3 linked regions of the Homo sapiens genome follow. The protein of the gene in region 1 interacts with the protein of each later gene in a pairwise test. Each region holds a gene or a part of one and is shown on either strand. Other genes may lie near its edges.

Region 1 (3,653 bases):
GCAAGCTGGATGTCTGAGGTCTGGAGAACAGTGGGGTCTAGGAACGACATAATGGCATTGGAAGGCAGGCACTGTGACCTGAGAGGGCATGGAGGTGGGAGGGCAGAGCAGAGATTTTCTGGAATGGTTCTAAGGGGAGAGATACAGCAAAAGAACTGGGGCCTCACCGGCTGCTGGGTTCTTCCCAGTGGAAGTCGACTGGCCAGCTCCGGAAGTCAAAGTTGTAGTTGGCAAGCTGCCTCTGCAGTGGGCACGAGAGGCAAAGGGGTACTGAGAACTCAGGGGAGGCTCTCCTACCCACCCTCAACAACACCTTCGTTATCCAGGGGTCTGATCCCCACACATCATGGGGAAACCAAGCGGAGGTCAATACCCTCCCAATTCTCAGATGGAAAATTCTAACAGGACCAGAAAATCAGGGGAGATGGTATGCCCCATCAGGTATCAGGACTGGCCTGTCTGCCCTCTTCCAAGCTAAGAACCTAACACTCTGCTTTTCTAAAAAACTAAGTCTGACCCATCCCCAGGAGGAGTGGCTGAAGGTGCTAGTGCTTTTGAGTGACGGGTAGTAGGGGTCGCTGGCTGGTCACGGTCTATTCCCCACCTGGGTCCCTTATAGGGTGCTGTCTTAGAAGCTTAGAAATCTCCCAGCAGATCACACTGACAGACCCAAGGTTGAGTGAGACAGAGAGGAGGGAAGTCACGCCCACAGTGGGCTCCTCTGCCATGTGGGGCCACCCGTTGAAGGAAGCTCTGACTTCCATCCTCACAACTACATCCCTTCCTCAACTCCTGCAGCCATGGATCAGTGTTGCCCTACAGCCCATCCGAACCTCGGGCCACCCCACTGAGCCAGTCCACATGCCTTTTTTTTTTTTTTTGAGGCAGGGTCTCGTGCTGTTGCCCAGGCTGGAATGCAGTTGGTGCAATCATAGCTCACTGCAGCCTCAAACTCCCAGGCCCAAGTGATCCTCCTACCTTAGCCTCTGGAGTAGCTGGGACTACAGACATGTGCTACCATGCCCAGCTAATTTTTAAAATTTTCTTTAGAGACAAGGTCTTACTATGTTGCCCAGGCTGGTCTCCAACTCCTGGGCTGAAGCGATCCTCCTGCCTTGGCTTCCGAAAGTGCTGGGATTATAGGCATGAACCACCTCACCAGCTCCACGTTTTTTGACGGCAGTGGGAGCTGTGTCTTTTTTTTTTTTTTTTTTTTTGAGATGGAGTCTCACTCTGTCGCCCAGGCTGGAGTGCAGTGGCACGATCTCGGATCACTGCAAGCTCTGCCTCCCGGCTTCACGCCATTCTCCCGCCTCAGCCTCCAAGTAGCTGGGACTACAGGTGCCTGCCACCACCATGCCCGGCTAATTTTTGTACCTTTAGCAGAGATGGGGTTTCACCATGTTAGCCAGGATGGTCTTGATCTCCTGACCTCGTGATCCACCCGCCTCGGCCTTCCAAAGTGCTGGGATTACAGGTGTGAGCCACCGCGCCCGGCCTAGCTGTGTCTTAATACTTGACTATATTCGTCCCCCACCCCCTGAGCTCCTAGCACTCTATTTTGAGGGTTTTTATTTTCTGCACAGAAATTTTTTGACATTTCAAAAATAATTTGACTAACAGAGAGCAATAGAAAAATTATACAAAAAGGTAAATGGCAAAACAAAACAAGATGACTAAAAGCAAATTTCAGGCAGGCTTTGCTCAGACCTGCTCTCAAATCTGGACTTAGCCACTTTCTTGCTCTATGACTCCGAATGGGTCACTTAACCTCTTTTTGCCTCTGTTTTCTCACATTTACAAATAAAGGTAATAATGCCACCTCACTCAGCTGTTGTGAGGATCAGAAAGGGTGTGTGCCAAATGCTTCAGCCAGTAGCATAGTACAGGGCATCATTACGCAGCTCCATAGTGTGGAGTAGCCAGGAATGTGATGATGGTGGTCATAGCTGTTTGATCCTAGAAACCTCCCATAACAGAAAAGAGCTCTATGGGGCCCCAAAGCCCATCCTCAAAGATAATCACAGTCCAGCACCAGCCGGCTTGGCATAATTCCCAAGACACTGAGCCCTAGCTTTTCTCCCTCCTGGCACCATGCTGTACTCCCAGGCATAGGAGTGGACACACCTGTCCACCTTGTCCCATCCACAAACAAGGATAGCATGGTATTCAATGCATACAACAAAATTAAACATTTATAGAACTGAGCTGCTGTGATACAGAGAAAACTACCTTCTAAGAAACATTGTGGGCTGGGTGCAGTGGCTCACACCTGTAATCCCAGCACTTTGGGAGGCCAAGGCAGGTGGATCACCTGAGGTCAGGAGTTTGAGACCAGCCTGACCAACACAGCTAAACCCCATCTCTACTAAAAATACAATATTAGCTGGGCGTGGTGGCGCATGCCTGTAATCCCAGCTACTTGGGAGGCTGAGGCAGGAGAATCGCTTGAACCCAGGAGGCGGAGGTTGCAGTGAGCTGGAATCATGCCATTGCACGCCAGCCTGGGCAACAAGAGCGAAACTCCATCTCAAAAGAAAAAAAAAGAAACACTGTGGGCCAGGCACAGTGGCTCACACCTATAATCCCAGCACTTTGGAAGGCCAAGGCAGGCAGATCGTCTGCAGTCAGGAGTTCAAGACTAGCCTGGCCAACATGATGAAACCCTGTCTCTGCTAAAAATACAAAAATTGGCCAGGCACGGTGGCTCACGCCTGTAATCCCAGCACTTTGGGAGGCCGAGGCAGGCGGATCACAAGGTCAGGAGATCAAGACCATCCTGGCTAACATGGTGAAACCCCGTCTCTACTAAAAATAAAAAAATTAGCCGGGCGTGGTGGCAGGCGCCTGTAGTCCCAGCTACTCAGGGGGCTGAGGCAGGACAATGGCATGAACCCGGGAGGCCGAGCTTGCAGTAAGCTGAGATGGCGCCACTGCACTCCAGCCTGGGCGACAGAGTGAGACTCCGTCTCAAAAAAAAAAAAAAAAAATTAACTGGGCGTGGTGGTGTGCACCTGTAATTCCAGCTACTCAGGAGGCTGAGGCATGAGCATTGTTTGAACCCGGGAGTTGGAGGTTGTAGTAAACTGAGATTGTACCACTATACTCCAGCCTGAGTAAGAGTGAGACTCTGTCTCAAAGAAGAAAAAAAAAAAAAGAGGCCAGGAGTGGTGGCTCACGCCTGTAATCCCAGCACTTTGGGAGGCTGGGGCAGGCAGATCGCCTGAGGTCATGAGTTGGAGACCAGCCTAGCCAACATGGTGAAACCCCGTCTCTACAAAAAATACAAAAATTAGAGGGTGTGGGTGGTGCGTGCCTGTAATCCTAGCTACTCAGGAAGCTGAGACAGGAGAATCACTTGAACCTGGGAGGTGGAGAGTGCAGTGAGCCGAGATCGTGCCATTGCACTCCAGCCTGGGCAACAAGAGCGAAACTCCATCTCAAAAAAAAAAAAAGAAAAAGAAAAAAGAAACATTGTGGAATGTTTCTAGTTTAGCCAGTTCTTACAGGTGAGGGAGGGGGAAGATTGTTCTAGCAGAATATTCCATTAGAAGTGGTAGGGAGGAAAAATTCCTCAGGTGGACAGTTCACTAATGGAGGTGAGAAGGGATACAGCAATGTGCAAGCAAACACCCAGTGTGGTGGGTGGTAAA
Region 2 (3,338 bases), on another chromosome or scaffold:
TTATGGGATAATCCAGCTGCCTGGGCACCACACTGAAGGTAATGGGATAATCCGGCTGCCTGGGCACCACACTGAAGGTAATGGGATAATCCGGCTGCCTGGGCACCACAGTGAGGGTTATGGGATAATCCAGCTGCCTGGGCACCATAGTGAAGGTAATGGGATAATCCAGCTGCCTGGGCACCACAGTGAGGGTTATGGGATAATCCAGCTGCCTGGGCACCACACTGAAGGTAATGGGATAATCCGGCTGCCTGGGCACCACACTGAAGGTAATGGGATAATCCGGCTGCCTGGGCACCACAGTGAGGGTTATGGGATAATCCAGCTGCCTGGGCACCATAGTGAAGGTAATGGGATAATCCAGCTGCCTGGGCACCACACTGAAGGTAATGGGATAATCCGGCTGCCTGGGCACCACACTGAAGGTAATGGGATAATCCGGCTGCCTGGGCACCACAGTGAGGGTTATGGGATAATCCAGCTGCCTGGGCACCATAGTGAAGGTAATGGGATAATCCAGCTGCCTGGGCACCACAGTGAGGGTTATGGGATAATCCAGCTGCCTGGGCACCACACTGAAGGTAATGGGATAATCCGGCTGCCTGGGCACCACACTGAAGGTAATGGGATAATCCGGCTGCCTGGGCACCACAGTGAGGGTTATGGGATAATCCAGCTGCCTGGGCACCATAGTGAAGGTAATGGGATAATCCGGCTGCCTGGGCACCACAGTGAGGGTTATGGGATAATCCAGCTGCCTGGGCACCATAGTGAAGGTAATGGGATAATCCAGCTGCCTGGGCACCATAGTGAAGGTAATGGGATAATCCAGCTGCCTGGGCACCATAGTGAAGGTAATGGGATAATCCAGCTGCCTGGGCACCATAGTGAAGGTAATGGGATAATCCAGCTGCCTGGGCACCATAGTGAAGGTAATGGGATAATCCAGCTGCCTGGGCACCATAGTGAAGGTAATGGGATAATCCAGCTGCCTGGGCACCACAGTGAGGGTTATGGGAGACGGGGTTTCACCGTGTCAGCCAGGATGGTCTCGATCTCCTGACCTCATGATCCTCCCACCTCAGCCTCCCAAAGTGCTGGGATTACAGGCGTGAGCCGCGGCGCCCGGCAGAGGTGAGGGCTTTGGGGGAACGGTTGTGGGGCCTGGAGTGTGGAGGCGTCAGCGCAGGCCTGGCAGGAGCCCTGAACCGGGACAGTGGGGTCCTGCAGCTGCTGGCCTGGGGTGTGGAGACCCCCAACACAGGGGAAGTCTCCAGGACCCCACACCACTAACAAGATGAGCCTTGTGCTCCCTTGGGCTCTAGAGAGGAAGCCCCTCTTAGCCCTCAGCCCCTCTTTCCTCCCTCTCCTAAAGTAATTTGATCCTCAGGAATTTGTTCCGCCCTCATCTGGCCCCGGCCAAATCCCGATTTGACAAATGCCAGGAAAAGGAAACTGTTGAGAAACCGAAACTACTGGGGAAAGGGAGGGCTCACTGAGAACCATCCCAGTAACCCGACCGCCGCTGGTCTTCGCTGGACACCATGAATCACACTGTCCAAACCTTCTTCTCTCCTGTCAACAGTGGCCAGCCCCCCAACTATGAGATGCTCAAGGAGGAGCACGAGGTGGCTGTGCTGGGGGCGCCCCACAACCCTGCTCCCCCGACGTCCACCGTGATCCACATCCGCAGCGAGACCTCCGTGCCCGACCATGTCGTCTGGTCCCTGTTCAACACCCTCTTCATGAACCCCTGCTGCCTGGGCTTCATAGCATTCGCCTACTCCGTGAAGGTGCGTATGGCCCCAGGGAATGCTCAGAGGGTGCCGCTGAGCCTGGAGCTCCACCTGCCCACATGCTGCCTGGGGTGGGGACTTGTGTGTCCCTGTGACTGTGAGTTTGTGTGCACCTCTGTCCCGTGTGTGCCCACGTCAGTGGCTTTGTCTGTGTGATCTGTGTGTGTGTGTGGCTTGGGGAATCTGCCCAGTGCAGGTTTAGGAGGAGGCTCCAGGAGGCTGGCTGGCTGGCTCAGAGTCTGTCCCCGGCTATCCACTAGCCCAGAGCAGTTCTCCCTATAGCCCAGTAAGAAATTACACCTTCACCTTCCAGACTGGCACCCAGGCTCTCCCAGAAAGTGAGAAGGGAACTCACAGGTGACTTCACCCCATGGTGGGGAGAACAGCCTGTGCTGAGGTCAAGGCAGAAGGAGGATGAGCCCCGAGGCTCCTGGAGAGTCTGAGCCCGGGTGAGGAAGGGGAGGAGGTGGTCCCTGATCTCAGGGCGGGGAGAGCCAATGAGGAGACGGAGCCATAGCACGCGGCTCTCAGCTGGGGGATCCTGGTCCCCTCACCATCTCCTCTCCCCCAGTCTAGGGACAGGAAGATGGTTGGCGACGTGACCGGGGCCCAGGCCTATGCCTCCACCGCCAAGTGCCTGAACATCTGGGCCCTGATTCTGGGCATCCTCATGACCATTCTGCTCATCGTCATCCCAGTGCTGATCTTCCAGGCCTATGGATAGATCAGGAGGCATCACTGAGGCCAGGAGCTCTGCCCATGACCTGTATCCCACGTACTCCAACTTCCATTCCTCGCCCTGCCCCCGGAGCCGAGTCCTGTATCAGCCCTTTATCCTCACACGCTTTTCTACAATGGCATTCAATAAAGTGCACGTGTTTCTGGTGCTGCTGCGACTTCACCTGGGGAGGGGTCTGGCTGAGGGTTCGGAGCGTGGTTCTGAGACTGAGCAGGTTGGTCAGCCCCTGCACTGCCCCTTCCGGCCTCTGTGCATCTCTTGGGGACCGGGCAAGTGCTCAGGCCTTCTGGTTTCGGGCCTCCTGCCGTGAGCAGCAGCTGGATCCAGGACCCTGGGAGGAGTTCCTGTGTCCTGCAGGTCTCAGCTCCTACTCAACGTGGGCTCTTTCCGGGAACGTCAGTGCTGAGTCCGGGACACCCTGGGCCCAAGGCCACGCTCGCGGCCTGTCGGCAATCCAGGCTGTCGGCTCAGGACAGAGGGAAGGGTTAAGCCCCCAGCAGGGCCAGGGAGGGGCAAGGTGGCACCGGCTCCCCAGCTGCTCCCAGGCCCTGCTCTGTGGTGCTGGGGACCTGGCTTTAGTTCCTCGGGGTGGAGGGGGCACCGCGCTGCCTGCCTCCGAGCTGTCTGGAGCAGCCAGTCCTGCAGATGTGGGCAGCTCAGGGCCCGTGGGAGGGAGGGGGCTTTGTGCCCAGGGCAGCAGCTGAAGGAGCCCCGGGCCTCGCAGCCCCTCCTGGGTGACCAGGTGCTGCTTCGTGGCAGCTGCCCCCTCCCGTCCAGCGGGTATGGGCCCTGCTCCCCCG
Region 3 (3,653 bases), on another chromosome or scaffold:
ACTATTCAGCCATAAAAAAGAATGAATTTCTATCATTAGCAGCAACATGGATAAATCTGGAGGACATTAAGTTAAATAAAATCAGTCATGCACAGAAAGATAAATATGGCATGTTCTCATTCATATGTAGGAGCCAAAAAAAATTTTTGAGCTCATGGAAGTAGAGAGTAGAATTGTGGGTATTAGAAGTAGGGAAAGGTAGAGAGAAGGGGAGGATGGGCAGAGGCAAGTTAATGGATAAAAAATTACAACTGGATAGGAAGAATGAGTTCTGGTGTTCTGCAGAACTGTAGGGTGAATATGGCTAGCTATAACTTACCACGTATTTTCAAAAAGCTACAAGATTTTGAATGTTCACAACACAAAGAAATGATAAATGTTTGAGGTGATGAATATGCTAATTACTCTGATTTGATTACACATTGTATACATGTATTGAAATATCACTCTGTATCCCATAAATATGTATAATTATTACATGTCAACTGAAAATAAAAGGGAAAAATTTAAAACATAAGGAGGAGTTTAGGGGCCCAAAGCATTATATATACTCCCATCCTTGCCCTTTCTATGTGGCTCCTGAGGCATCCTAGGGCTCCATAAAGGATAAAGACTATTATATGATCTCTCAGGCCCCTTAAAATAATATTAATAATACAGCTGTCTTATTCCTTGCTTGGGCACCTGAGTTAACTGGTCTCTTTGCTTTTAGTCTACACCATCTTCTATACCATCAGTTTTATTCCCAGAGACTACAGATGACCATATTACCCTGCTTACAAACTCTAAGGGTTCCCTAATACCTACAAAATAAAATCATACTCCATGGTATTATATTTACAGCCTTTCAAAACAAGTGTAAGCAACATTCTATCATATATTTTAATAAACCAAATGGCGGACTGTTCTCCAACATGCTAGGTTCTTTACATATTTGTGGACTTCTGCTTATATTGTTTTTTCTAACCGTTAATGCTCTTTTAAATACCTGGAGAAATCCTGTTCATTTTCATATGTTCAATTCTACCATAATTTTTTCTGTGAAACTTCTTTATATATACTCCCCTCCTCTGTCCCGTTTCTTCAAACTTACCCCCTACAAATGGGAATTTGTTCCTTCCTTCTCTCTGTTCCCAAAACATTTCATTTAAATCTAATTTACAACATCTTTTCAATTAAGATATTATAGTATACTTGTTTGAGTATATGTCTCTCTCTCTACTAAGAGAACAGTGTTAAAAGGTATGGACATTAAATGCAGGACTCAATATAAGGTCTGGCAAAGAATAAACCCTTAATAGCTCTTGGATGGAAATAAAGGATGATATGAGATTATGAATGTCCTAAAGGAATCAGGCAGAAGAAAATCTCTTCTCAATTCCATGAGAACTTTCCTAGGTCTTGGTTCTCTAAACCATGGTGAAAATGAGGATACTAGATATTAAGTGAGTGACTATTTTTGGTGTTGAAAATTAGAGTTCTAGAAAATATTTCAGATATTATAAAAATTAATACATCATAAAACATAATGTCCAACATTTTCTTAGCCAATTGCCTAGGGTTTTATTTTTGTTTTGATGTACTTTTTACTTGTCTTTTATAGGTAGAGAATTTTTGTTTTGTTTTTTAAAAGTAAACATAGCAGCTTCCTCCCTGGCCTAAGTTATCTTACTATCTAAGTCCCTAAAATGGCAAAGATTATTTAACTAATCCGTTTTTATTTTCCTCTGATGCTCTTGTACTCTTTTCCTTTTTAATCCTTCCTATTTTGTCAGCTTCAAACTTGGCATGTATTAAACATTAAATACCAATTATTTGTAGATAATTTAAAATCCAATAATGTTCCTTTGAGTCCTCTATCAGCTGTATCATTTATAACCACTGATTAAGATGCTCTTATCTTTTATAATTTTCTTTTTTCAAAATAATAATAACTAATAATTATTGACTCTTCCCATGTGTGTCAGACAAGATGCTAAGTAATACACACAGATTCCCTCACAATCCTCTCAAACCTCCTATGTTTATTTTCACTACTTTATAGAGGAAACTGAGGCTTAGAGAAGTTATGTGAGCTGTTCAAAGTTACACTGTTAGGAAATGTTTGAGCAAGGGTACTAACCTACACATATCTGGCTCCAAGACAGTCCTAAAGCAAGAAGTTATCTATTATTGCATGATGGGCACAGCATAGACACATGTTAACAGGTTAAATTACTGTAAGCATGCTGAAAAAACCAACAAGATGTCCATTTTGTAGAATTAGAGCCAGAGAAGTTGCTCCTCCCAAAAGACAACATTTTTAAGTAATCTTTACTTTTTAAAAATTATTATTTTTTATCAGGCATTCTGTTACTGTATTTCACTTAAATGATCATAAAGAAATCAAGATTACACTCACTGAAAAGTCATGGCTCCTGCTTCCAAGGTACATCTGGTAGGGGACTGTTCATTCAACTTTCGAAAGAGTTGCTTAGCCTGACTCTGATATTGTTGAAGGTCCCGGCCAGACTGAAAGAAGACATCTTCATTTAAGAATTTTCCACAAAATGCTGTATCAATTAGTGAGAAGCATCATATTATGAGGACACTCTGAATGAGGTCCTTCATTTACAGGTAAGTAAGATTCATTTTAACGGAGGAAAGACAACCTACTTTCAGAGTACAGAGGAAGACCTAACCCCTACTTCTTCAAGATGATCGCATTAGTTATTTGCTAAGAAGCAAAAGCATATACCTCAAATACACTTAAGCACTCTTAACTTTCAATCCAGTGTTCTTTCCACTATTAGGACAGTACTCTCCTCCTAACCCATTTCATTTGCAGTTATTGGCACAGAACTACACAGCATGTGCTATACTCAGGGGAATATCCTAGGAACAAGATTGGTGAATTTCATTTTTATGTTGGAATATCCAGCAGAACCTTCCACAAGTGTTACAGTTTTTAGCATTTAAACAAAACTAAATGTGTGTACTAGTGACTGCAAATTATTACGAACACTTTGACTGCAATTACATAAAAATGACCAAGGGTAGAGACAAAGATTAGGATGTCAGATACCCTTTACTGAAGAAATCTATTTGGTTCCCAAGTTTGGACAGCAAAAGTTTGAATATCGAGGGATATATGCAGACAAAAATGAAAATAATAGCATTCACATGTTATAATTACAGGTAATATTTTCCTGAACAATTTCTAACTGCTTTTACAATTATTTTTGTTAAAAAGAGGGGGCAAATCTACTGGAAAAACCAGCAGTGTCATTTCAAAAGAAGAAAACCATGCATCTCCAATCTACTAGATCCAACAGGGAAAGGAAGTGCCTGAAGAATGGGAAGCAAATAGACATTGTTTTTCCATCCACATGTGGGGTAGGGGAGCTTTCTGCCAGCTACCCAGCTATAGTCTGAATGTTTGCTGGTATCCCCCACAAAATTCATGTTGAAATCCTAACCCCCCAAAGTGATGGTATTAAGAAGTGGGACCTTTGGGAGGTGATTAAGTCATGAGGGTAGAGCCCTCATGAATGTGATTAGTACCTTTATAAAAGAGACCCCAGAGGGCTAGCTTGCTCCATCCACCATGTGAGGAAACAGCCAGAAGGTGACATCTATGAACCAGGAATAGGCCCTCAATAGTCACCAAATCT

The links.
Region 2: the proteins of ABHD16A (region 1) and IFITM3 interact in binary tests that used the Homo sapiens proteins (3 or more experiments, as listed by UniProt).
Region 3: the proteins of ABHD16A (region 1) and SEC22B interact in binary tests that used the Homo sapiens proteins (3 or more experiments, as listed by UniProt).

The regions. Positions count from the first base shown.
Region 1 is NC_000006.12:31,693,192-31,696,844, forward strand, and holds part of ABHD16A (phosphatidylserine lipase ABHD16A), read right to left. Parts: intron 242-3,653; coding exon 168-241; intron 1-167. UniProt on the Homo sapiens protein: Phosphatidylserine (PS) lipase that mediates the hydrolysis of phosphatidylserine to generate lysophosphatidylserine (LPS). LPS constitutes a class of signaling lipids that regulates immunological and neurological processes.
Region 2 is NC_000011.10:319,023-322,360, reverse strand, and holds IFITM3 (interferon-induced transmembrane protein 3), read left to right. Parts: upstream 1-1,500; 5' UTR 1,501-1,547; coding exon 1,548-1,796; intron 1,797-2,370; coding exon 2,371-2,523; 3' UTR 2,524-2,685; downstream 2,686-3,338.
Region 3 is NC_000001.11:120,166,439-120,170,091, forward strand, and holds part of SEC22B (vesicle-trafficking protein SEC22b), read right to left. Parts: intron 2,512-3,653; coding exon 2,402-2,511; intron 1-2,401. UniProt on the Homo sapiens protein: SNARE involved in targeting and fusion of ER-derived transport vesicles with the Golgi complex as well as Golgi-derived retrograde transport vesicles with the ER.